4 separate regions of the Homo sapiens genome follow, and all the other regions are linked to region 3. The links come from fine-mapping of genetic effects on gene expression. A gene starts in region 3. Each other region holds a variant in brackets. All regions are shown on one strand. Distances are from middle to middle.

The links. PIP is the estimated chance that this variant, and not a neighbour inherited with it, causes the effect. A credible set is the group of variants that fine-mapping cannot tell apart.
Region 1: its variant is the best candidate, but not a certain one, in a credible set for the expression of ITGA2 in blood mononuclear cells (TOPMed, PIP 0.70).
Region 2: its variant is the best candidate, but not a certain one, in a credible set for the expression of ITGA2 in platelets (CEDAR, PIP 0.78).
Region 4: its variant is the best candidate, but not a certain one, in a credible set for the expression of ITGA2 in Th1/17 cells (Schmiedel 2018, PIP 0.83).

Annotation. Positions count from the first base shown.
Region 1 is chr5:53,015,299-53,017,985 of GRCh38, reverse strand. All of the region lies in intron 1 of ITGA2 (integrin subunit alpha 2), which reads right to left. Among named protein-coding and RNA genes, the nearest start is that of ITGA2-AS1, 26 kb to the right of the region's middle. The variant T/C (reference allele first, on the strand shown) is at 1,394.
Region 2 is chr5:53,023,082-53,025,768 of GRCh38, reverse strand. The region is part of intron 1 of ITGA2 (integrin subunit alpha 2); the gene reads right to left. It overlaps LOC124900974 (a long non-coding RNA gene), which reads left to right. Exons shown (of 2, transcript XR_007058767.1): 2 at 1-2,222. Among named protein-coding and RNA genes, the nearest start is that of ITGA2-AS1, 34 kb to the right of the region's middle. The variant T/C (reference allele first, on the strand shown) is at 1,570.
Region 3 is chr5:52,987,669-52,990,355 of GRCh38, reverse strand. It overlaps ITGA2 (integrin subunit alpha 2), which reads right to left and starts at 1,004. Exons shown (of 30, transcript NM_002203.4): 1 at 824-1,004. The coding sequence starts at 887. It overlaps ITGA2-AS1 (ITGA2 antisense RNA 1), which reads left to right and starts at 70. Exons shown (of 4, transcript NR_186583.1): 1 at 70-266; 2 at 2,080-2,152. RefSeq lists a silencer at 1,051-1,200 and an enhancer at 1,665-2,687.
Region 4 is chr5:53,032,056-53,034,742 of GRCh38, reverse strand. The region is part of intron 2 of ITGA2 (integrin subunit alpha 2); the gene reads right to left. The region is part of intron 1 of LOC124900974 (a long non-coding RNA gene); the gene reads left to right. Among named protein-coding and RNA genes, the nearest start is that of ITGA2-AS1, 43 kb to the right of the region's middle. The variant T/A (reference allele first, on the strand shown) is at 1,132.

The sequences.
Region 1 (2,687 bases), 28 kb before region 3:
GAGGGCTCCAGCAGAACAGCCCCTACCGATGCATAATGGTTTACCTGCAGCCTCCCCCAGCCACAGCCTCCCCAACCGCAGCCTCTCCCCAGCATTTTGCCAGCATGCGCTTACCCATGCCTCACACCCCTCCACATCCCCCCAACACTGCTTTGCTGGCCCACACATGCCAGAAGACCTTGTCTCTCCTCCCCTGCCAGTGCATGCTCATCCTACCATACCCCCAGCTGATGTGTGGGCAGCCTGCTATGCTGGCATGAATGCACACAGGAATACTGGCAACCTCATCCCCACTGGTGCCCTGCCCCTGCTGTACTGCTACCATGCACCGCCAGCAGGTTGCTGCCACCCTGCTCCTTCTGGAGCCCCACCCCAGCTGACACATGGGCACACGGCCATGCTGCCACAGCTGCTGTCACATAAAAGTGACGATGGATCCTGCTGCCACCACCCCAACAAAGAGCTTTGGCTGGCATTCCCCCATCGGAGTGTTGTGGACAATATAGAGCATGAACACTTTGGCCCCTCCAGTGCAGCAGATGCCTAACCTTGAAAGACCAGAGAACAAAGCGGGGGGGCCCAATGCCAGTTCCTCAGAGTTAGAGTATGAAGCCTAGGAGTGCAGGGCTGAGCCTTTGCTCCCTATAATCTTACAGAGACAATGCCAGTTCACTAAACACCACAATCACATCCTCCAAGTGCATCAAAGAAGATAAAAGCAAAAAACAACCCATCCAAAAAGTAGCAATTTCAAAGACTGAAGGAATATCAGCCCACACGGATGACAAAGAAACAGCCCATGAACTCTGACAACTCATAAAGCCAGAATGTCTCCTTACTTCCAAACAACAGCACTAGTTCCCCAGCAATGGTTCTTACCCAGGCTGAAGTGGCTGAAATGACAGAACTAGAATTCACAATATGAATAGAAATGAAGATCATCAAGGTTCAGGAGAAAAAGTCAAAACCCAATCCAAGGAATCTCAGGAATACAACAAAATAATACAGGAGCTGAAAGACAAAATGACTATTTCAAGAAAGAAATATTCATCTGATACAGCTGAAATACTCACTTCAAGAATTTCATAATACAATCACAAGTATTAACAGCAGAATAGACCAAGCTGATGAAAAAATGTCAGAGCTCAAAGACCAGTTCTCCAAATTAACTCAGTCAAAAATAAAGAAAAAAGAATAAAAAAGAATGAACAAAACCTCCAAGAAATATGGGATTATGTAAAGAGACCAAATTTATGATTCATTGGTATCCCTGAAAGAAAGGGAAAGAAAGAAAGCAACTTGGAAAACATATTTGAGGATATCATCCGTGAAAATTTCCCCAACCTCATTGCAGACGCCAACATTTAAATTCAGGAAATGCAGAGAACCCCTG[T/C]AGGATACCAGACAAGATGATCATCCCCAAAACACATAGTCATCGGATTCTCCAAAGTCGAAAATAGAGAACAAATGTTAAAGGCAGCCAGAAAGAAGGGCTAGGTCACCTATAAAGGGAACCCCATCAGGCTAACAACGAACCTTATAAGCAGAAATACTACAAGCCAGAAGAGATTTGAGGCCTATATTCAGAATTCTTAAGCAAAAGCAATTCCAACCAAGAATTTCATTTCCAGCCAAATTAAGCTTCATAAGTGAAGGAGAAATAAGATCTTTTCAGATAAGCAAATGCTAAGGGAATTAGTTACCACCAGACCTCTCCCTTACAGGAGGTCCTTAAGGGGGTGCTAGATATGGAAAGGAAAGACTGTTAGCAGCTACCACAAAAACACACTTAAGTACATAGACCATTGACACTATAAAGCAACTACACAATCAAGTCTGTATAACAATCAGCTAACTTGATGATAGGATCAAATCCGCACAAATCAATGTTAACCTTGAGTATAAATGGCCTGAATGCCCTAATTAAAAGGCACAGAGTGGCAAGTTGGAGAAAGAAGCAAGACCCGAGTGTATGCTGTCTTCAAGAGAACCTTCTCACATGTGATGACACCCATAGGCTCAAAGGCAAAGAGTTGGAGAAAAATCTATCAAGCAAACAGAGAAGTGAAAAAAGCAGAGGCTGCTATTCTAATTTCAGACAAAATTGACTTTAAACCAACAACAATCAGAAAGGACAAAGAAGGGCATTATATCATGTAAAGAGTTCAATTCAACAGAAGACCTAACTACCCTAAATACGTATGCACCCAAAATAGGGGCACCCAGATTCATAAAACAAGTCCTTAGAGACCTACAAAGACTTAGATAACCACACAATAATAATGGGCAACTTCAACACCCCACTGACAGTATTAGACAGATCATTGAGGCAGAAAACTAACAAAGATATTTAGGACCTGATTGACACTTGATCAAATGGACCTAATAGACATCTAAGAACTTTCTACACCAAAACAATAGAATACACATTCTTCTCATCTGCACAAGGTACATACTCTAACACTGACCACACAATCAGCCATAAAACAATTCTCAGCAAATTAAAAAAAAAAATCATACCAACCACAGTCTTGGACCACAGCACAATAAAAATAGAAATCAATACTGAGAAGATTGCTCAAAACCAAATAATTGCATCTAAAGTAAACATCCTGCTCCTGAATGACTTTTGGGTAAACAACGAAATTAAGGTAGAAGTCAAGAAATTCTTTGAAACTAATGAAAGC
Region 2 (2,687 bases), 35 kb before region 3:
CTGAAGACAGAATGGACTCTTTAAAATTGACATCAAAGTTCCATTAACATGTGCTTTCACAAAGAAATGTCCTACTTTCTAGGCAGCATTGCAAGTGCATGGTATTTCATATGTCTATTGTTTTAGGCACTGAAAGGCCGGAAGAAAAAGGCTTGCTCTTCCATTGCGCCTCTGCATTTCAGGGAGCAGATTCTGTAGAGTGCTCCAAAATGATAATGAAGTCAATGATGAAGCAACGGGGACTTTAAGTAGTTAACGTCCCTCTGTAAGTGCCAAAATCACTGTATCAGGGATTTGTCCACACAAGGAATTCAGCTTTTTATTTCTTACAAATAATGTGCTGCCATGAAGAGAAACACAAATACTCATTCTGAAATACTCTATAGCAAAATCTGCAAAGCTTAACATCTGCAAATTTTCTCCTTAACATCTATTTTTCATATGCTCCATTGCTCCTTTTTATTTTTGAATAATAAAAAAATGCAAAAGAAAATAACAGCAAATTAAGCAGAGATCCAGAATTGGCATGCAAAATACCTGGTGTTTTCAACCAACATTTATCTTCACCCCATTGTGGAGAGCTCAATAAATGCTATTTGAATATGTTATCAATCATCTAACATATTAGCGTGGAGAGATGATGCCAAACTGCTTTCACCTTTAAAATACCTAATTCTGGAAAGGACACGTGACTGTACATAAAACAACCTCATTTTCCCCCATTAATTAGACCTGGGCAGATCATTTAATGGCAGGAAATTATGATGGAGTTCATTTTATCATTTAGCAGTTCAATTATACAGCAATTCACATATATAGGCATATATGTGTTACTATATATGCATAGATATATATTATTAACTTATGTCTTGCCATTGAACTGAGAATAAAATCCAATGTCCTCACTGTAAATTCAAAGGTCCTTCATGATTGAGCCCTGGTGTATCTTTCTGACTTCACTTCCGACCACTCTCGTCCTCCCTCCCTGTGTTCCAGCCACACTCACTTTCCTTCTGTTTTTTGAACACATGCAGCTCATTCTGCTTATGCGCTTTGCAGCTGCCTGTTCCACTGCCTATAACATCCTCACCTAATACGGCATGTAGGACTTTGCTCAAATAGGTCTCTGCTCTCCCTTGGCCCTCTGTGTAGCAGCAGCACCCTTCTTCATCACTGTATCACTACTAGAGCAATTATCCAAAATTATCTTATATAGCCATATTCTTTTGTCTGTGCCTACTAAAATGTAAGCTCCTTGAGAAGTCAAACCTTGTTTCTTTTATTCACTCTTACTTTCTCAGCACCTAGGATTTTTTTTTAATAAAATGCATTTTAATTACTATATGTTCTTCAATAATGATTTGGAATATAGAGAAAACTCAAGGGAAAAATCATTCATAATCTTTTCTTTCTACTGTAAGTTCAGTTAATTCAGATGTATTTCCTTCCAGTATTTTTCCTCTATTTAAATTATAATGTTTATTCCAACTCGCATCTTACTGTTTCTTAATGCTTATGTCTGCCTATGTCAGAATCATCCTGACTCATTTGAGTGCCACAACAATCCTG[T/C]GGAACAGCAAAACCAAGCTATTATTAACAAATTACAAATAAGGAAACTGAAACTCATGAAGGCTAAATGTCTTTCTTGCGCAATGTCACCCACTCTGAGTCTAGGTTTGGCTCATCTCTCAACTTTATTGTCCAGAATTTCTATTCATAAATGATCTGCTCATTTTTCCTCACAAAGCATGACCTTCTTTATCACCATCCCTTCATTCCATTGATACTAAATCTCTTTTCAGCTACTTAAATCTTTCCCTTTATATCCTGCCTCTTTTGATAAATCTGGACAATCTCAATTCTCTATACTTTTTCTCTTAATATGTATTTACAATTCAGATCTCTGTCATCATTTCACACTTGGCATATGATATCTAAATAGCTCATAAAAAATTAATGGAAGTATTCTGTCTAATTCAACATGTATTTCTTCTTTGCAATCCCAGTGCCTATATCTTCTGATGTCTGTCCTCATAGTTCAACTGAATCATATGGATAATAAGAACCATATTTGGTTCATCTTGTTTCCTTCCTCCAAACCATGCCCATGTGTCTATACATACTTAAAAAATGGATCATTCAACATATGTTTATACAGCTCCTTTGTACCAGGCGTTTTTTAAGGTCCTGAGGATACTGCAAATAAATAAAACTAAAATCTCCCTGTTCTCTTTGCATTTCCATTATGGTAATTTTACTAAAAAAAATGGCATCAAAATGTATAAGTGTTAAAATAAAGAGTGGTAAAAAGAACCTTGAGCTCAGTATTGAGAAGAGGGTAAATCTAAGTTCAAAGGTTTCACAGAGGAGATGGCAATTAATCTGGATCTTGGAGGACAAGTTGGAATTCACTACATAAAGAGGAAGGCAAAGTTCATCCCAGGCACCGGGAACATCATGTTAAACGTAGGCATAGGGTGTGAAAGAGAAGAGTACGGCAATGGTGAAAAGTCTGGCACAGAGAGTCATAGGTTGCTTCATTAATCTATACATTTCCAGTTCTCTATTAGATGCAGTGAGTCTTCAACTGACTTGGGCTTTGCCAGGAGCCTATTATCACCCAGAGTATAAATCTTCCTTCTTTGTCCTCATGTGAATGCCTGGAAAGGCAATAATAGCATCGCAAA
Region 3 (2,687 bases):
GTAAAAGAACTCAGGAGGTGGGCGGGCCCCACTGCCACAGCACTACAGTTAGAGCGGCTGCTCCGGCTTATTCTCTCATTGCGGCATCTAGGATCCAGAAGTGAAAAGAACTTTTCCTAGCCTAAGTTTACATTCGTCGAATAGACAATGTTACAACAATAAGAGGAAGGCAGAAGGGAAGGAAGAATTCCCCTCTGCCAAGTATTTAAGTGGCGCTTGGTTTATTCCAAGTCCCCCCGGGAAGAAACACAGCGCTTCGTCCTCAAGTAAGAAATAGAGGCATTATTCACATCCTTGGGTTGAAAAATAAGCATTTTGGGGCTCGCAGGCTTCTGCAAAGCCAGCAAGCACCGCGCTGGGGAGCTGCAGGCCGCCATCAGCAATGGATTCCGGATTTCCCTGGTCTCTGGCAGGCGCGGCACCTGTCTGAGCCAGGGGAAGTTGGGCTGCAGGACTCGCGGTCTCCAGGACACCCGCGGATCCCCACACTGTCCATGCTTGAGTGCGTGCGTGTCTGTCTGTGTGTGTGTGTGTGTGTGTGCGTGTGTGTACCTAAAACAAAGCACTCACTGAGATGACTTTGGAGGGTGCTTAACAGACAGGGCGAGACGCGCCTAATGGGGACGCAAGGCCTGGGATAGCAGGAAGGGAACGAAGAAGTATCTCTTTCCAAGCAGGTCCTGGTGGCTGGGAGCCCGAGTCCACGTGGAATCCGAGGGAACACACGGAGCTCGCTCCCTAGTTCCGCCCAATCCCTCCAGCGAGCCCCAGGAAGCCGCGCGGGTCCCTCCTGCAGCCGATGCAGAGCGAAATCCCCGCTTACCTTGACTGAGCGCTAACACCAGCAGCAGCGGCAGCGGCGCGGCCCCTGTCCGTTCTGGCCCCATCCTGGGTCTGACCGGGGGACCGTAGTTGCGCTGGGTTTGCAGAGGTTTGCAGAGGATACCCTTGGCCGAGGGATACGAGAACCTGCACACTCTAGAAGCTGTCCAGAGGGCTTCTCTCCCCCGCCCGGTGAGAGCAGGGAAAAGTTTCTGGGCAGCTCCTGCAGCGCCGAGGGCCCGCCCCAGCCCGCCCCTCCTGATTCCGCAAACACCGGATCTGCTCCGGCCGCGCCCCGCCCCACCCCGGCCCTGCGGCCCCGCGGGCTGCACCTCGGCTCGTCCACACGCGGGGCACCGCACCTTGGCTCCCGTACAGCGGCCCAGCCCCGGCAGCCTGGAGGCGGTGGGGATGGGGATGGCGCCCTGGCAGGCTTTCCTGCCCTGGACGGGACGGGTGGGCATATCCGACGGGCGAGCGCCCGCCCTGGCACCACTCCGCCCCCGCAGCCTGTCGCCAGCACGCAGGAGATGCCCCAGTCCCCGGGAGAACGTGGCCCCTCCGCAGCCCTTGGCAGCGCCCGGCTCCTGGCAGCGGGTGCCGAGGGCACTAGCCCTAAACCACAGTGCCTAGGGGCTGCGCGGTGCGTCCCTTTCTCTGTTTTTCCTAAGTGGGTGGAGAAAGGGACAAAAATAAGCGCAGAATGACCAGGTTAGAAACTAACTCATCAGGAAAGAAGATCTGCTCACAAGTTATGATTATCCAAGGTGATATTTAAGCAATACCTGCTGCAAGAGCTGTGTGTGTGTGTGTGTGTGTGACAGAGAGACAGAGAGAGAGAAATCATCATTACTTCCTCTCCTCCGAGATAATTAAGAGCTGATTTAATGACTGAGTTTAGGAGATTAACTTCAAGGCCAGAGAAAAGGCTGAGAGCCCATACATGCACTTGTGACTCTCCCTGTCTACATTACACCATGACATAGACTGTGACCATTTTCTTCCATTATTTCAGTCTCACATCTGGAAAGAGAACATTCTATATCCGAGATTTTTAGTTAAAAACCTAAGAAATAGGATATTAATTTTTCTTGTCTGAATCTTATGTTTTATCCAAAAGTTTGGCCACAAATTTCCAGCACATTGCTGAAACCAGAATTCTTCCAGTGACTACTTTTGTGAAGGAACGAACTGTTTTCATAAATCAAGCTTAAGGAGTTATGAGTCTAATAATCATCATTATTGTCATCATTCCAGATCTTCATGGAATGCTACTATGAGCTGAATGGGATGCCTGAGATACTGCCTCTAGGAAGCAAAGTGGCTCAAGGTGGGAAGGACTTAATAATTCATAAAAATCAAGCTCTTCTCTTTACTATAGATAGGGCTGATGTGTCACATTGTTAAAGTATTAAATTGGTATGCATCAGATGTTGCTGCTGATGGCTTATGACTAATACCCTTTGAACCCAAATTATATAGTCCCAGGCTCTTTCCTGTTTTCTTATCAGTCACTTACTGGCTGCACTTACTCACCTTGACAAACACCTGAAGGCATTTTTTTCTGAATTGTCTGGGGTACTCACCTGCTTACTAAAACTCCGGCTATCACCTGAGAGCTCTTAGGTGGCTGCTCACTAACCGGTGACACGATTTTGACGCTCCTTACAGACTTTTTGAAGGAAGTCAGCCAGGTTTCAGGGAGATGAATATCTGTCTGTTTCCTTCTGACTCACTGAAATGTGAGTAAGTGTTTGGAACAGACCTGTGTTTGGGAGGCAGGACACTTCCTTTAATGTGAGACAGGAATTTGTGTTTTATCTCTGGGGGTGGGGGGAAATAACATGCATCCTTCTTGGTTTTTG
Region 4 (2,687 bases), 44 kb before region 3:
TAGACAACTAGATACTAGGAAGGTGTGTGTGTAAGTCCCAGTCACCTTTGTAAATGAACTTTATTCCAGAAACAGATATTCACACATTACCACAGAGGAAAGCTTAAAATTATAAGACTTGTTGGTGAGGCATGGAGGATTTTTATAGATCATTAAAGCACAGCAGACATTCTGGAGCAACATATCTCTCCCACGTGCAAGTCACAAACAATGGGTGTGTATGTATTCATGTGTTTGTAGGTGCACACACAAACTTGTATCCAGAGTGAAGGAACGAAGAAGCAAATCAGGAGATATTTAAAGTGTCCTTCCTACTATAGATTTTTTTTTTTTTTGAGTTGGAGTCTCACTGTTGCCCCGGCTGGAGTGCAGTGACGTGATCTTGGCTCACTGCAACCTCCGCCTCTTGGGGGGTTGTCATTGTTGAGATGAGACATGCCACTTTGGATACCTGTATTAATAGTGCTGAGGATGGCTTAATTGTACAGCAATAGCATAATAAGTATTTATAAAATTTTTAACAGTAAGTATTTAAAGTTAAAATAAAAGTGTAAGAATATATTACAGTTGGATTTCTAATGTCTTTATAGAATCAAACACTGGACTAAGTTATGAGTAAAAAATAAAATTGAATGGAAGAAGAAAAGGAATATTTATGTTATGAATTTAAAATAAAAGGAGGGCCAGGCTCGGTGGCTCACGCCTGTAATCCCAGCACTTTGGGAGGCTGAGATGGGATCACTTGAGGCCAGGAGTTCGAGATCAGCCTGGCCAACACGGTGAAACCTCGTGTCTACTAAAAATATAAAAAATTAGCCAGGCATGGTGGTGGGCGCTTGTAGTTTCAGCTACTTGGGAGGCTGAGGGAGGAGAATGGCATGAACCCAGGAGGCGGAGCTTGCAGTGAGCCGAGATTGCCCTACTGCACTCCATCCTGGGCAAAAGAGTGAGACTCCGTCTCAAAAAAAAAAAAAAAAATTAGCCTAGTATGGTGGCACATGCCTATAATTCCAGCTATTCAGGAGGCTGAGGCATGAGAATCACTTGAACCCAGGAGGCAGAGGTTGCAGTGAGCCAAAATTGAGCCACTGCATTCCAGCCTTGGTGACAGACTGAGACTCTGTCTCAAAT[T/A]AATTAATTAATTAATTAATTTAATTAAATAAGATATAAGCAAACTCTGTGAATAAATGAAGTTGGCATGTTAAATGGCACTGCCAGGACAACCTAATGGTAAGAGACTTTTATCTTTGAAAGAGATATAAAGGATGATAATTGGCTAATATTTAAAAGGCTATATCATAAAAGACAAAGACATGATTATTTTGGAAAGAGGATTGGAATAGAATAGCATTCTTGGCCAAGAAGAAGAAATGGACTTCATGAAGCTAATCCAATATGCATGGAAGCTCATCCATGACAGATGAGAATTGGTTGAGGGGATAGGAAGAGGTAGGGAGGACCCAGTTTTTTTTTTGAGATGGAATCTCCCTCTGTTGCCAAGGCTAGACTGCAGTGGTATGATCTCAGCTCACTGCAACATCTGCCTCCCAGGTTCAAGTGATTCTCCTGCCTCAGCCTCCCAAGGAGCTGGGATTACAGGTGCCTGCCACCACGCCCTGCTAATTTTTTATGGTTTTGGTAGAGATGGGGTTTCACCATGTTAGCCAGACTGGTCTCGAACTCCTGACCTCAAGTGATCCGCCCGCCTTGGCCTCCCAAAGTGCTGGAATTACAGGCATGAGCCACCGAGCCCAGCCCTGAAGTGCTTTACTTTTATTCTCACACAAGGTGCTCATAACATTCCAGTTTGATAAGGATGGCATACTTTCTGCTCCAGAGAAGTTGTGTGACTTTCCCAAAGTCACCCAGGGAGTGGTGGGGAAGCTGAGGGTAAAACCCTTGTGCTCCGGCTCCTGAGTATATTCATACAAGAAATTCCTGTCTATGATAGGATGAAAAGATGGATGGTAACTATCATCTTTGCCCAGGAAACAGCTGATGGTAAAGCCAATGATGCTAACATTGGAAATTCTCTAACAGAATTTTTCATTCAAGATTCTGAAAGTTTCTCTTACTTCATAAAGTTTATGTTAAAATAAAATTTAAATATTATTTATAAATGCCAACTACATCCTGTCACTCTCCTTCTTGGATACTTACAAAAATATGTACGTTTGGAACATTTTGTCTCATTTTGCATTAGCTTCCCCTATCTTTATTAATTATCAGCTCTGTAATCTTAGGTTAATTACTTAACATTTCTGAGTCACACTCCTCTCATTTGTAAAGGGGGTAATAATTTTGCAAAGCTCCTAGAGTAATTATGGGTATTACATGTTTGGCAAGGAAAGAGTACTCAATAAATACCAGGTGGTGTTATTATCAAAGTATCACGTGACATAATCTTTGATGTCTGTTATAGAATTAAACTTTTTTTTTTATTTAAAGTTCTCCTATAGGCACATCTGTGGATGACAATGCTATATTCATAACACATGTAGAGCTTTATTAAAGTTTTTCTCAATTAAAAAGTTAAAACTATAAGCTCATATATAGGTGGATTTTTTTTATTTTTATTTTTTGCTATGACACTTGTTCTTTCTATTTCTCCTCTCTCTTTAAGGAAAAAGAATGCACTAGTCCTTGTTAGAATGAAAGACATTTCTACAACTGGAAATACCCTAATT